Linked DNA regions of Homo sapiens: region 2 is reported to be linked to region 1. Evidence: microRNA targets listed by miRTarBase, many of them from high-throughput screens and not tested one by one. Region 1 holds a microRNA gene; the other region holds the end of a gene's coding sequence.
The links. The annotated mature microRNA hsa-miR-2276-5p reads GCCCUCUGUCACCUUGCAGACG and lies in region 1 at 2,176-2,197, opposite strand. An mRNA with a match to its seed (bases 2 to 7 or 8) in the 3' UTR can be bound and repressed. Matches are read on the target gene's strand: a 7mer-m8 pairs with bases 2 to 8, a 7mer-A1 pairs with bases 2 to 7 and ends in A, and an 8mer does both.

Region 2: miRTarBase lists RAB13 as a target of hsa-miR-2276-5p. Seed matches in the 3' UTR shown: 8mer at 974-981, 7mer-m8 at 1,001-1,007 and 7mer-A1 at 1,155-1,161.

What each region holds. Positions count from the first base shown.
Region 1 is chr13:24,159,555-24,164,627 of GRCh38, reverse strand. MIR2276 (microRNA 2276) reads right to left here and starts at 2,212; the gene lies at 2,124-2,212. SPATA13 (spermatogenesis associated 13) reads right to left here and starts at 3,908. Exons shown (of 13, transcript NM_001166271.3): 1 at 3,696-3,908. RefSeq lists a silencer at 3,958-4,017.
Region 2 is chr1:153,977,947-153,983,019 of GRCh38, reverse strand. RAB13 (RAB13, member RAS oncogene family) reads left to right here. Exons shown (of 8, transcript NM_002870.5): 5 at 212-301; 6 at 420-485; 7 at 576-629; 8 at 844-1,370. The coding sequence ends at 921. It overlaps JTB-DT (JTB divergent transcript), which reads right to left. Exons shown (of 1, transcript NR_186180.1): 1 at 3,860-5,073. Among named protein-coding and RNA genes, the nearest start is that of JTB-DT, 2.7 kb to the right of the region's middle. RefSeq lists a silencer at 4,873-5,073.

The DNA of each region.
Region 1 (5,073 bases):
TTTAGGGAGCAATGAAACTTGACTTGCTCCTCAGTTATAACCATCCTCACCTAAACCACAGAACACAGAGGATACCTCACGCAAATGCTTCCTCCCTTCTCCCCAGGATGGTACCTGATCACCCATCTCATCCTAGGAGGGAGTGATGAAGCCATCACATAGGATGCCTGCCTCAGGGCATCAGGGTTTCATTCTGTCAAGACAGGCTGGTATGGAGGAGGTGAGCATCACAATTCAACAATACCCTGCAGGTTCCCTGGGGAGCCAAAAGAGGCATTAAACATGGAGGGAGCAGAGGCAGGAGCAAGGGGGCTCAGTGGGAGTCCAGAGAAGGATGTGGGTACAGCAGAGGCCAACAGAAAAACAGCAACCTACTCTATGCTCCCCCTTTACTGCTCTTTCATTTGTGATGCAAAGATGAGGAAAATCAGGTAAGCACTTTGTACCAATGCATTTCTCTCCACAAATGTAAAATACAATTAAACATTCCAGGTACTGATTTTCAAATTGCCATGTATTATATAGTTTCCCTCAAGAAAACCATGTACATTTGGTGTTCATTCCTGGTGTTTTAGAAATAACAATGATAGTTCTTTCTAAAACATTTGAATTTATACCACTGTGATGTTATGATCCCATTTATGCTATTACATGTCTCATAGGCAAACATTTCTTAAATGTTTAGTTTTCAGACAAAAAAGAAAGGAAAGCACTGATGAGTTCCCCTTCTAAGTGAAACCTTCCAATGCCTCTTAGCTCAAGGGAAAGGAAGGGGAAAGAAACTTTGTTGCTTCCAGCAGCAAACAGAGAGGTCAACCTACCAAGCTATAGGGCCAGGCATTGAGCCCTGAACCAGAGAAGCCTTAGAGCCAACTTTGTCCTGCTGCTTTCCCTTGAATATGCCATTTTATTTCCCTGGACCACGGTTTCCTCATCTGTAGAATATAAAGTCCCTTTCAGCTATCAAGGTGCATGCTCTGCTTCAGTATCTGTAAAGTAGAAATACTACTTGCCTCCAACTCTTAGGAAGATAAAGACTAAAAAAGAAATGTTTGGACAAGGCTTTAAGATTACATAATGAAATGGATATAAATAAGACTCATACAGTCACACAGCTAACAGAGACCATAAAGATCTGTCCAGCTAAAGTGAAACGGAACTCTCAATGCACGGGAGGAGACAGCTGGCAGTAGTCTTCTTTTTTAATTTAACTTAATTTTTTTAGAGACAGAGTCTCTCGTTCTGTCACCCAGGCTGCAGTGTAGTGGCAAAATCATAGCTCACTGCAGTCTCAACCTCCCAGGCTCAAGAGATCCTCTCACCTCAGCCTCCTGAGCACCTTGGACTACAGGTGAGTGCGCCATCACAACCAGCTGATTTCTTATTTTTATTTTTTAGAGATGGGGTCTTGCTATGCTGCCTAAGCTGGTCTTGAACTCCTGGGCTCAAGCAATCCTCCTACCTCGGCCTCCCAAAGTGCTGGGATTACAGGCATGAGCCACTGTGCCCAGCCAGGTCATTTTTATGCCACTTTCTTCAGGGCTTCCTGTGGCTAAGAGGGAAAGTAGACTGATAGCATGGATGAGGTGACAGCCCAGGCACTGGCCCCAGGCTTTCTGAGGGACAGCCGGCATTAGGTTTTTCTCCATGCACTGTCCTACAGGTATAGAATTCATGTCCTCCACTGGTGTACATTGCAGACTAAATAAAACATGTCATATAACAACCTCCTTTCCAAAGCTAAACTCCAGGCATGCCTGAGTTCAAGAGGTCACCCAGCAGGGAAGCTCCACTGTCTGGTGAGAAGAGGGCCTCCACTGCTAGGCAGTGGCAAGAAGCCATGCCGGTTACCTCCTCTGAGCCTTCCTTTTCTCATCTGTCAAATGGGGACAGTAGTAGATCCTACATTATAGGGATGTGTGGAGGATTTTAAATGAGTACTGATGCACGTTAAGCCCTCAGAACAGTGCTTGGCACACACCCAGAGTTTGGTAGATGCTACCTAACATCAATATTGACATTAATTCTAGAACTATGTAGAGGATACGACTTCAATAAGAAAACAATCAGTCAGAAGCAGTGGCAGAAGGGAGGGTCCTGAAATCCAGAGTCCTCCTGCAGAGATGCAGCTGCCACTCCTCGCCTCTGACACTTGCAGACATTCGGAGAGAAAGCCGTCTGCAAGGTGACAGAGGGCGGACTGGAAGAACACAAGGAACCCAGGGATGCTGATGGAGCATGGAAAACCGCAGCAGAAGGCACTGAGGCAAGGTGTGCCCTCCAGGCGGGGCAGGCTGTGGCTGGGCAGAGCGCCTGCCAGGGAGAAGTAGGGCAAAGGGAAGAAAGCACCTGTGGGAGAAACATGGGGAAACAAGGAAGAAACCTGCATATGCACGGGAGCACAAATAAGGAAGGAGATGGGAGAACTGGGTGGAGGCAGATGGCAAACGTGGGGGCCAAGGGAGGTAGATGAGAATTAGGATATGGGATAATAAGACAAAGCCACATGAAACTCTAAAGTGCGGGAGGAGGGCAGAGAACAGGGAGGGTGCATGACAGGCACCCCGAGAATAATGCAGTGAGGAAGTTTGCAAGACGGGGGAGGGGGACATTAGGAAAAAAGGAGAATTTGTTGGGAAAGGTGGAAAAAGAAAAGGAGTGAGATTTCTCCGCCTGTTAGCAAGGGGAATAAAGGAGAGCAAATCGCTGGGTGACCAGGAAAGGTTCACAGAGAAGAAAACACGAGGCAGCAAAAACCGAAGGTGGGGACAGAGAAAATGCTGGCAGGGGGAGGTGCATAATATAAGGCTATGGGAAGCCATGGGAACAAGAGCTGAATAAATTCACAGTATTATTCTATTTATCCACATCCCTATGCAATGCTGGGAAGCAAATGACCCACAGGGTTTTGTTTGCTTGCTTTGGTTTGGTTTTCCTGCACTTGGAGGGAGGGGAAATTTGCTCAAGCTCTGTAACCTTGCAGTCAGATGGGTGGCCCAGCCCAAGTCACCCGAGCTCCCCCTGACGCTGGCAGCAGCGCGGGCTTCTACCTGCCTGGGGCTGGAGTACCAATTCCCCCACCTCCTGCACAGAATGGGACCAAACCAACTCCGCCAATGCATTCCCTGCAGTCCACAGACGATGGGCACCGGGTCCCAAAATCTTTCCCCTGGGACGAGACTCCGCTGGTACCAAGAGAAACTTGCTTTCTAAACTAAGCTCTCCAACCGCATCGCTCCGGGTCCCCGGAGGCACCAGCCACGCCACCCGATGGAGCAGAGCGTTACAGGGCTCCGCCGCGCCAGGCTCCCCAGACTCTGCCACCCCCACGGCCGCCCCTGTAGGCCAGGCCCCGCGAGCTGGGAGCGCGGGTGAAGTTACAAGGCGACCTCCCTGCAGGCTTCCGGCTGGAAACGGCCTTTTGCGAGAACACCACGTGCATGTCCTCCCAAAAGCGATGGTGCCGGGTGGCCCAGAGGGCGCAGAGCCACCGCCGGGCAGGGAGCGGGCGCACGGACCTAACAGGTGAGCACCCGGTAGCCTCCACCGGCGGGGGAAGCAGAGGCCAAGCAGCTGGGAGCTGGACATCCCGAAGCCCCGAGGCAGTCCACTGGGACTCAAATCCTCCCGATATTCTACCTAACAGCCCATGCCCGCGCCCGCCCGGCAGAGCCGCGCGCCCGAAGCCGTCTTACCTCCTGCGGCGCCTCTTGGCGGAGCCTACAAAGTCAGCGTGTCCAACACGTCCCTGCCCTCAGAGCCACCTCCGGTGCCGGCGGAGCCCCGAGGTCGCCGCACTCTCGGAGGAGCCTGGGATCCAGTGCGCGCCCTCGGAGCTAGCGACCGGCAGGGCGATCGCGGGAGAAAGCGCAACGCACACTCTCCTCCCGCGCCGCGGCAGCACACTCAGCCAAGCCACGCCCCAGCCCCGCTCCCCACCAGGCCACGCCCCCAGCCCGGCTCTTCCCCCCGCCCCATATCAGGCCACGCCCCCGGTTAGCTCACTCCCTCAGGCCACACCCTCGGCCACGCCCCCACACTACCAACCACAGCCGGGGACCCCACCCATCAAAAACAGTTCCCCGGCCAGGCGCAGTGGCTCTTGCCTGTAATCCTAGCACTTTTGGAGGCCGAGGTGGGCGGATCACCTGAGGTCAGGAATTTGAGAGCAGCTTGGCCAACATGGTGAAACCCCGTCTCTAATAAAAATAAAAATTAACCGGGCGTGGTGACAGGCGCCTGTGATCCCAGCTACTCAGGAGGCTAAGGCAGGAGAATCACTTGAACCCGAGAGGCGGAGGTTGCAGTGTGCCGAGATCGCGCCACTGCACTCCAACCTGGAGGACACAGCCAGACTCCGTTTTTTAAAAAAAGAAACAAACAAAAATAGTTCCCTCAGCCACCAGCCAGCCCCCACCCCCCAGGGCGGGAAGAGGAGTCTCATCTCCGGGGCAACCGTGCCCCACTGCCCACTGCCTGGGCCAGAAGTTCACTCCCTGTGAAAGGAAAACGCAGGGTAGGGATTTTTAAACCTACATGTTTCCCAGGGCCTGGGGCAAGTCTTGAGTAGACTGTTGCAGTAAACCGACTCAAAGGCCTATCACCTTTCTTGTGAGGCTCAAGGCCTAATCATTAATTGACATGAAAACCACAGAAGAGAAGCAAACCCTTCTGTGCTGGGATCTGTGCCCCAGTGCTCCATGTTCCCTGATAGGCAGCTAATGGAATTCATAAAATAAATGCATGCTTTCTACCAGTGTAGTTTTTTAGATGATTCATTTAGTGGCCAGCACTATTATTTATAAATGTCTATTGTCTTTTATAATCAAAGAACAATACCCACAATCTGTAAAATAAAAAACAAAAATTATATTACCCAATGAAAAGTGAAAATTAATTTTATGTATGTTTTTTAAAATATTGAAAAAACTCTGTATGACATTATAATGGTGGCTTCATGTCATTATGCATTTCTCAAAACTCACAGAATGAACAGCATGCGGCGTGAGCCTCCTGTAAGTAATGGACTTAGTTCATCTTAATGTAACAACATGGGCCCATCAATCATAACAC
Region 2 (5,073 bases), not on the chromosome of region 1:
CCAAGTAGCTGGGATTACAGGCATGCACCACCATGCTCGGCTAATTTTGCATTTTTAGTAGAGACGGGTTTTCTCCATGTTGGTCAGGCTGATCTTGAACTCCTGCATCAGGTGATCCACCCGCCTTGGCCTCCCAAAGTGCTGGGATTACAGGCGTGAGCCACCGCTCCCAGCCGGCAGGACCTAACTTTTACTTGTCTTTTGCCCCCAGAATGCCTCGGCTGGGGTGGAGCGCCTCTTGCTGGGGAACAAATGTGACATGGAGGCCAAGAGGAAGGTGCAGAAGGAGCAGGCCGATAAGGTGAGGGCCAGGCTGAGCAATGTTCTAGAACTGGGCTGGGAGGGCCAAGATAGGTTGCATTGCAGAGGACTTGGCTGCTGTCCTTAATTCAATTCTCTTCCCACTTCACCCCTTATAGTTGGCTCGAGAGCATGGAATCCGATTTTTCGAAACTAGTGCTAAATCCAGTATGAATGTGGATGAGGTGAGATCCACACCCCCATCCCCGACCAAGAGAGGAAGTATTAGAAGGTAGATTCTCCTCCCTCCAAACTGACTCTGTTCCCCACTTTAGGCTTTTAGTTCCCTGGCCCGGGACATCTTGCTCAAGTCAGGAGGCCGGAGATCAGTAAGTTGGTTTTGCTGGACTAGGTACAACTCTGGGGTGTGTGTGTGTGTATGTATGTGTGTGTGTGTGTGTGTGTGTGTGTGTGTGTTGGTGTTGATAAAAACGGGGAGCAATGCTAAGATTTCTCATGAGGGTGGATTTACTTTAAACAGTTTATACCCTCCTACCCTAACCATCCATTCACACCATGACACCTGTGCCCTTCTCCCTCTAGGGAAACGGCAACAAGCCTCCCAGTACTGACCTGAAAACTTGTGACAAGAAGAACACCAACAAGTGCTCCCTGGGCTGAGGACCCTTTCTTGCCTCCCCACCCCGGAAGCTGAACCTGAGGGAGACAACGGCAGAGGGAGTGAGCAGGGGAGAAATAGCAGAGGGGCTTGGAGGGTCACATAGGTAGATGGTAAAGAGAATGAGGAGAAAAAGGAGAAAAGGGAAAAGCAGAAAGGAAAAAAAGGAAGAGAGAGGAAGGGAGAAGGGAGAGGAATGAATTGAGGAAGTGAAAGAAGGCAAGGAGGTAGGAAGAGAGGGAGGAGGAAAGGAAGGAGAGATGCCTCAGGCTTCAGACCTTACCTGGGTTTTCAGGGCAAACATAAATGTAAATACACTGATTTATTCTGTTACTAGATCAGGTTTTAGGGTCCTGCAAAAGGCTAGCTCGGCACTACACTAGGGAATTTGCTCCTGTTCTGTCACTTGTCATGGTCTTTCTTGGTATTAAAGGCCACCATTTGCACAAATGTTCCTGTTTTGGGTAACTTGGATTATTGTCAGAATTGTTCTCCACTCAAATCCAATTATTGTGTCTTCAAAGTGATTGATTTACCCAAATCAGGCTCGGTTTCTGTGGAACCAGGACTAATCCTACTGCTGTCTCTTCCCTAGCTGTTCTGTTGGTAAGGAAAATAGCAAAGAGCAGGAGGTAGAGTGATCTGAAGGTCTGGATATCCTCTTTCCGCCATGGGGTCCGGATGCCCTTGTGGGCAGAGCCTTGTCCTGAGCACAGGAAATTCCCAGCGAGAAGAACTCTAACAGTCCTAGCCTCAGGGAAATAACTGCACCTAGTGATTTATCCAGTGATTTGTGCAAGCTTCTTTGATTCTGCCAGCAATCCATTTAGTTATTTGATAGGCATTAATATCTGCTTTTATTAGTGAGGAAAATGAGAAGTTCATTTATTCATATATGTATATTGAGCATCTACTAAGTGCCAGGCACAATGGTCAGTTATTTTATTTATTTATTCATTTATTTTTAGGGACAGAGTCTTGCTCTGTCTCCGAGGCTGGAGTGCAATAGTGCGATCTCAGCTCACTGCAACCTCTGCCTCCTGCCTCAGCCTCTCAAGTAGCTGGGATTACAGGCGTGAGCCACCATGCCTGGCCAATAGTCAGTTAATATAGCCCTTTGGTGGTACTTACAAGCAGAGGGACAAGGACTTTTTTTCTTTTTTAAGACCGAGTGTGGCTCTGTCGCCCAGACTGGAGTGCAGTGGCACGATCCCAGCTCACTGCAACCTCTGCCTCCCGGGTTCAAGCGATTCTCCTGCCTCAGCCTCCCGAGTAGCTGGGATTACAGGCACGTGCCACCACACCTGGCTAACTTTTGTGTTTTTAGTGGAGACAGGGTTTTGTCATGTTGGCCAGGCTGGTCTTGAACGCCTGGGCTCGAGTGATCAGTCTGCCTCAGTCTCCCAAAGTGCTGGGGTTACAGGCGTGAGCCACTGCGCCCAGCCTGGGACAAGCAAACTTTAACAAAAACAGCTCTTTGGCTGGGCGTGGTGGATCACAACAGGAGTTCAAGACCAGCCTGGCCAGCATAGTGAAACCCCGTCTCTACTAAAAATACAAAAAAAAAAAAAAATTAGACAGGAGTGGTGGAGGGCGCCTGTAGTCCCAGCTACTTGGGAGGCTGAGGCAGGAGACTCACTTGAACCTGGGAGGCAGAGGTTGCAGTGAGTTGAGATCACACCACTGCACTCCAGCCTGGGTGACACAGCCAGACTCTGTCTCAAAAAAACAAAAACGAAAACAAAAACATCTCTTTGCTGAATAACAAAGATGGCAAAACTACTGGAAATGCAAAAGAAAATTCAGGCTTGGGCCGAGCACGTTGTTTCATGCCTGTAGTCCCAGCACTTTGGGAGGCCGAGGTGGGTGGATCACTTCAGGTTGGGAGTTTGAGACCAGCCTGGCCAACATGGCGAAACCCCATCTCTACTAAAAATACAAAAAAAATTAGCTGGGCATGGTGGTGGGTGCCTGTAATACCAGCTACTTGGGAGGCTGAGGGAGGAGAATCGCTTGAACCTAGGAGGCAGAGGTTACTGTGAGCAGAGTTCGCACCATTACACTCCAGCCTGGAGACAGAGCGAAACTCCATCTCAAAAAAAAAAAAAAAATTCAGGCTTGATGCACAGCATCCTTAAGTATATATATATTATATTATATTATATATTACAATGTATAATTATATATATTATATATTAAATATATAGGAAATATATAATATATATAACATGTATATGTTTATAAACATATAACATATTATATATAATATATAATTATATATTATACATATATATTAAATATATATTATAATTATATATTTAATATATAATATATTATGTTTAATATATAATTATATATAATTATATTATGTTTAATATATAATATATAATACATATTTTAATACATAATATATATATATCCCCCTTTCACCATACATAATATTTTTTACACAGCAAAATGTAATAACTTGATAAATGTAAGTATCCAAGCATTGATGAGGTAATGATAAACCTTATTTGTGGCTTATGCTTAAGTTCTTTTTTTTTTCTTTTGAGATGAATTCTTGCTCTTGTTGCCCAGGCTGGAGTACAATGGTGTGATCTCGGCTCACCGCAACCTCTACCTCCCGGGTTCAAGTGATTCTCCTGCCTCAGCCTCACGAGTACCTGGGATTACAGGCATATGGCACCATGCCCAGCTAATTCTGTATTTTTAGTGGAGACGGGGTTTCTCCATGTTGGTCAGGCTGGTCTTGAACTCCCGACCTCAGGTGATCCGCCCACCTCGGCCTCCCAAATTGCTGGGATTACAGGCGTGAGCCACTGCGCCCAGCTGTGTTTGAGTTCTGTAGTAAACTGTCCGGTAGGTTTAATTTGCTCAAGCGATGAGGAAAAGACTTGCACTTTGTGCCTCCTGGGAAAGAGACTAACGTCTTCAACATACCTTATGGCAGATATTTAATTTCAGAGTAGAGACCCCACTCTGATGCCTGGTAAGGTTATTGGAAGTGAAATATCACAAGATCTTACAGTTTGTTGTGAGATAAGGTAGGATTTGGTGAGGAGTAACAAATACTAGCAGATTTCGGCCCAAACTTCAATTATAGCTAAACATTACTGGAAAAAACCCCACAACCTACTTTATGTAACATATAACTACTCACACACATACACAAAAATAATACACACACAATTTCAGCAAACACAAATAATAATTTAAAGAAACAAATTCAAAATTAGAGCCAGGTATGGTGGCACATGCCTGAAATCCCAGCTACTTGGGAGGATCCCTGAAGACGAGAAGTTCCAGGCTGTAATGCGCTATGATGGCTCCTGTGACTTGCCACTGCACTCCAGTCTGGCAACATAGCCAGAGTCCATCTCGTTCAAAAACAAAAACAAACAAACAAAAAACGGCGAAATGAAGGCTCAGCCCTCATCAGGTTTAGGTGACAGAGCTAGACCCTGTCTAAGAAAAAAAATAAAATTAAATGAAAATTCGTTATCAGACAGTAAAGCATGAACCCACAGTGCTGGTCAAGTCACTGCAGATCTGAGTGTGTATCAAGGTTTAACTCCATAAGATGAAAAGCAGGCAATGAATCTTTGGCCTGGGTGTTGACAGTCTAGGCTCAAGCCTCAGCTTTCCCACTCATTAGCTTGCTGACCTTGGACAAGTCACTTATATTCTCTGAACTTACTCATGAAACGGAGATACATTTCATCTGCCTCTCGCAAGAAAAAGTCCTGGTAAATACACATTAGCATTTCCGTTTTACACAGAACACTGACAGATACTTTCCTAAGATCATGGAGTTAATAACCACCAGAACCTAGACTCAATACTTATGGAACTTCAAATCTCATGCTTTTCTCATTGCACTTATGATTACTCCATTATGTAGGAGCAAGGGAGAGTTGAGAGCATTTGAAGAGGTTATGCAAAGGACCAGCTCTGAGGAGTAGGCTTAGCAAAGTAACATGAGGGAAGGTAACACCGTTCATCTGTGTAGCGGAGTGGGAGCCAAGAGACAAGGAGAAAGTTTCATGTTCGTCATGTGTCTCGGATATTCCGGTTTCTGCAGGGACGAGAACGCGCAGTTTCGCCTCCATCCCTTGACCTCCAACACAGCTTCTCCACTGGATCATCGGTGG